Linked DNA regions of Homo sapiens: region 2 is linked to region 1. Evidence: fine-mapped expression QTL. A gene starts in region 1. The other region holds a variant in brackets. All regions are shown on one strand. Distances are between the middles of the regions. Region 1 holds the start of FGF9 (fibroblast growth factor 9). Region 2 has its middle 6.5 kb from the start of LINC00424.

Region 1 (2,500 bases):
AAATTAAAAGTAGGGGGCCTTTCAGTGTATACTTGCATCAGTGCCAGCAGCAGATCTGCAATTCCGGAGGCATTTTTTTTTCGGAGCTGGCAAGACAGAGAGAGAGAGAGACAGAGATACAGAGAAAGAGGGGAGGAGGGGAGAACCCTTCCCACGTCCCCCACCCGGCCACCACCTTCTTGGTAGTTATAATTTCAACATGTCATCTCATGGACACTAAAGGGTTAATGGTATACCTACCAAATCGGCTGTGGTCTTTCCTGGTTCCCTGGATAGTACCATTGGGGAAGATTTCTAAGTGAAATCCAGTCCTGCAGTATAGCTGCCTCCGCCTGAGAATCCCCTTTAAATGATCCAAGTCCGTGACTGCGGGTCCCCTGGGGAGCCCCCCTGCTTCGGACTGACCCAGGTGGTCACTTAACAAAACCGGGCTGTCCACCGGCAACACGGGCACATTCCCAAACGGTACCGCATCCTGCACACCGAAATAGTTCCCAACTTCACCTAAGGGAGCCATCAGAGGACTCGGCTTTTGGAGCACAAGAATAAACAATAATGATGGTGTCAACCCAGGAGATATTAGGCGAGGTATATCCAACTCCCCTCCCTTACTGCAGTTGCAGAGAGAGAGAGAAAAAAAAGGTTCTTTTCTTCAATCCATTAAATGCATAAATAAAAGTAATCTGCTGTTTCACTGGCACAGGTTCAAGGTCAAACCACTGATAGTCTAAGAAACCACCACTTTATACTCACACACTGACATATTGATAAACATATCTATGTATCTCTATAGATAGATCCCCAGCTCTTAGCAGGCAGGAAGGTCTTCATCCCATCCGACCGTAATAAGGAAAAAAAATCCGTAGTTTCTCCATTTGGTTTGAGATCAGAATGACCATAGCAACTTAAATGCCTAGGCGTTATTATAGGGATTTTTAAGATGCACGGGCTACGTCAGAATTTACGGATCCTGACTCCAGGAAGGCATGCGCTGTTTTTACTCTCTAACCGACTCTGCAGACATCAGCATGAATCCTTCAAGGGGAAAAAAAAATCTCACGTTGGTGGCGGCGACAAATCTCCCCTCCCGGTCCCCCCTCCAAAAAATGATAATAATAATAAAACAAAAAGAAGAAGAAACTTTAGGCGTCCAAAGCTAGTATCCAGGATTCTCCAGAGGCTCGGCAGATGTCCATTGGCTTAGAACGGGTGGCGAGCGGCGAGCGAGGAGAGCCGCGTCCGGGAGCTCGCGTGCCGCCCAGGCTGCCGCGAACAGGTGTTGCCGCGCCGGCTCGCGGAGCGTTGTAGCCGGGCGGAGCGCTCCTCCTGCGCAGCCCCCGCCGGCGCGCAGAGTGGCGCAGGCAGCGGCATTGGGCTGGGTTTAAGGTAGCGCCGCCGCAGCCCGGGCTCCCCGCGGTCCTAGCGCCCGGCTTACTGCCCGCGCCGCTCTGCGGCAGGCGAGGTGCGGCGCGCCAGAGCGCAGGACTTCCTGGGAGGCAGTCGAGGAGCCCTGGCTTTACAAAGAAAAGCAAATGAAAGATGCACTGCGAGAGGCGGGAGGAAGAAACCCTGAGTCTCCCGAGACTCAAAGTTCTCCTGCAGAATAGAAGCCGGTAACCTACAATCTAGCTGGCTGGCTACATTGATGGAGGGTCAGAGTGAAACTGGGAAACTAGTTTTCACTGGGGCTCTGTAACCTTGCGTTGTATTATAGAATATGACTGAGTTGAGAGAGTCGGAGGGAAGGGGAGTTGATTTAATGGACTCGGATGGCCATGGCAGTTTCTCTTCCATTCTTCGGCCACACACACAGAAGCGCAAACTATGTTTCAGGTAAGATCAACTCCTCTCCCCCGTCACACACACACACACACACACACACGCAGATGCGGCCACCGTTTCTGTTTTGTTTGGAGCGTTCTGCTGGGCATCTTTGGGTTGGGGCTATGTTTAGGTCCCGCCCCGCTGCTCGGGTCCCGGCGGCCGCAAAGCAGTCGGCAGGGGGGCGCCAGAGAACCTTCTCTGTCCCCGACTTCGACTCGGGCGCGCGTCTTCGGGAGTCTGGGTGGAGGGGAGCGCTCCAGTAGGCGTCTTCTCGCCCTCAAACCACGCTGCTTAGGACGAGCGGCGCCATCCCAAGCCGTGCATCGGCTCGGGGAAGCGAAAGGCGAGTTCTGGTGTCTCACTCCACCGTCCGAAGCCCGCCGCGGAGCTGGGAGGGCCGGGCACTGGATGCTTGCGGGGCGCCCCGGGGCTGCAGCCGCTCCTTCCTGCTCTGCCCTGCGGGGCCGCACGTGGAAGCCTGAGCTCCGTTGCGCGGGCTCGGGTTTCTGTTAGCCGCCGGCGGCCTTCGCGCCCAGCGGGAGTCAGGGACAAAGAAACCCGCCTCCGGGGGCCGCCAGGGGCCCTGCCGGGCCGGGCCCGCCAGAGAGACTGGAGGCGGCGCGCTCTGCGCCCGGGACAGCCTGCCTGCGCCCGGATCCCCAGTGGCGGCGGGCGC
Region 2 (3,018 bases), 210 kb before region 1:
CCTCCGATGGCTTCCCCTCCCACCCAGAGAAATAAGCCAGGATGCTTACGGTGGTCTGCCCACCTCCTGCCGCCTCTGAACTCACTTCTCACCAGCTCTCCCTGCTTCCCAGGTATCACAGTCCTTGAAGCTTTTCAAAAGGACCAAGTCAGCTCCCACCTCGGGGTCCTCGGACTTGCTACATCCCTGCTTGGAATGTCCTCCTCAGAGCCCGGCCCAGCTTCCTGCCTCCGTGCCTAACCAGAAATGCCTGCCCCGACTACCCCATGGACAGAAGCACTGCACACCCCTTTTGCAATACTCCTTACCCTCTACCCTTCTTAATCTCTCCCTCCAGTGAGGACTGCCCTCTGCCATATTGCATATTTATCTGTTTGTTCTCTCTCTCCATGCTAGAAGGTAAATCCGCAACGGCAAGGACTTTGCTTGGCTCACAGAACAATGCCTGCCACCTGCCAGGTGCTCAGTCAGTATTTGTTGAGTGAACTCACTCATGAATGGTGCAGTCACAAGGAGCTGAGTTCCAGCAAAACTGTCCAAATAAAGCACTGGTGCTGACAAATCCACAATTTACTTCCATGCTGCTATCCTTCTTGCTGCCTGTCCACTCCATGGACTATCCAGCATGTGAACGAATAATGAGGATGGTAGCAGGTGCCGAAACTCCTCGCGTGCTATGGAGTCAAACCATCCAGCAATGAGCTCTTCTAGAAAGCCAGTTACCAGGCAAATTCAGAACAAAAGCTGGAAGGACTCTAAAGCTGCTGACTTCCTCTTGTAAGGGCCTTGCAGTGTCGCTACCACTCTGATTCCTGTTTTACAGATAAAGAAACCAAAGCTACTAAACATTAATCTCCTTGACCAAGGTCACAGAACTAGGATTCAAAGCCAGGGCTTACTCTGGTGTCCAAGCTCTGGCCCATGCCCCATCTTTCAGGTGAGGTGTACTGGCCGCCCAGGCTGTCAGCTCCCTGAAGCTTCCTTCCTTGTGTTCTCAACAGCTTCTGCTAACCCTGGTCGACGTCGGTCACCACACAGAGACTTAGGAGCAGCCACTGAGTGTGTAGACAGATTCAAGGCATCCTCCAGTGTAACTTGGGAGGAAGGAGTGCTCTCTTAAAGTGTCAACAGCTTGGAATTGTTGTAAAGGCCCTGCTTACTGAAACAGCCAATCATGTGTCAATATGTTTGCCCATGTGCATTTAATGCCTGTCGACTCCAGTTTGAGACCAAAGAGAGTTAAATAGTTTTCAATAGTGTCCTAAACCACCCCCCTCCTGTTTGTCCTGTAGAAATTCCATTGTGAATTAATGTGCAAGCTGGAGGTGACCCAGCCCATGAAGGGCCAAGAACATCCTCCTGAAGGGAAAATTAAAACAAGGAACGATGATTTAGAATTCCAAGTATGCAATCCACTCTCAGATCCTCTCCCCTGCCTGAGCTTACTTTCCAAGTCAGATCTGGATATAAACTGTATTCGGTGATTATAAACAATAATTAACATGGCCCGACGAAGAATGCATTTTGGGCTCCCCAGGAAGCTTCTTTCAGTAGCATCAATAAGGAACATGAACTCGGGCTGGGAGGGGGCAGGAGTGAAGGGCTGTGCCCAGGAGCAGCTTGTTTACCATAAAGGCCCAGTGCAAACACTACATCTGCTCCTCAGTCTCAGGTCCTCATATCTGATTTTACAGCTGCCCTGACTGAGAACCAAGGACTGAAACCAGTTTGTTT[A/G]ATGTCAGAGCTTCAGTGTTGTGCCCCTCTACAAGGCTCAAAACCCCTGGCACTAATCAGCAAATAAAAGAATGATTTAGAGTCCATCTGGATTCATCAAGTCCCACATAACTAGGTGAATTCACACATCATTTTCTTCTGTTCCTATCAAAAATGTACCATTTTTTCATTCGCTTTCTGGTCTCTCCAAAAGACTTCTAGAAATTCCATCTGCACAGACTGGGCTAGGTAAACCTTTCTGATTCCAAGCCACCAAAAGTAGCCCCTATGGATGAATTCTTCATCTTTTCTCAGTCCCAGAAAATGACAAATTGTCCTACAAATCTGTGCTGTTCTGATTCTGAGCCTAACAGAGCTAAATAAATAAGTCAACACACCACACACACACACACACACACACACACACAATGGCAGACACAGCATCAGAAACTGACTCTTCACTGAGGGATAAGAAAAGTGTAATCACAATCTCCAACAGGACTTTGAGTCAGGCTGGAGGAAATGGGTGATGGGGAGTCGCCCACAGAATATGATCAGTTTTCTTACCAAGCTGTAAATGGATTATCTCACTGGGATGTGTTGATTAGTTACATATGTCCTCTGTTTTCCATGAGGATAGAAGAGGCAGGTTTTATTTCTTAATAGTACAATACATAAGGCATTATAGCTCTATACAGGCTGTGAGCATTTAGCATATTTTACTTTACACAATAGCAATGATTATTTTTCTGAAATATTAAAATCTGAAAGTGGCTGCGATTGTACAGAATGTTTCAAGGATTTCATTGGCTCGACTGATCGTTTTCAGCTCACAAATCTCAACTGCACCTCTTCACTTTTTCCCTTGCCGAGAAACACGTCTGCTCTTTTTATTCCTGATTTACAAGGCAAATTTGGCATGCAGTTCTCTTATATATGCTGATCTAGGCTTATTGAAGGCAGGTGCGCTCTTTAATATATGTGGGCATAGGGACCCCCTTCCATCCCATAAAAGAATACTGGGCATGTTCTCAGGTGGAATATCTGCTCTCTTTTATTCATAAACCTGAAAATCTGAAGCATTTGTATTGCTTTTACATATTACTATGAACAAATTAGAATAGGAGAAATAATGTTCCAACCCTGCAATGGTACCATATTAAAAGTGTCTGAACCAAACTCTGTCCTCTATTCACTGACTGAAAGGGATCCCAGAACTGAGCCTACTTCCCGCTTAGTGCTTTTGTATTAACATTGCATAAACACAGTCACACTACACCATAGGGACAGGTAAATGCAATACCA

The links.
Region 2: its variant is fine-mapped to the expression of FGF9 in gastroesophageal junction (GTEx, PIP 0.98).

What each region holds. Positions count from the first base shown.
Region 1 is chr13:21,669,930-21,672,429 of GRCh38, reverse strand. It overlaps FGF9 (fibroblast growth factor 9), which reads right to left and starts at 1,357. Exons shown (of 3, transcript NM_002010.3): 1 at 241-1,357. The coding sequence starts at 517. RefSeq lists silencers at 1,370-1,429, 1,450-1,499, 2,280-2,500.
Region 2 is chr13:21,883,113-21,886,130 of GRCh38, reverse strand. No RefSeq gene overlaps it. Among named protein-coding and RNA genes, the nearest start is that of LINC00424, 6.5 kb to the right of the region's middle. The variant A/G (reference allele first, on the strand shown) is at 1,735.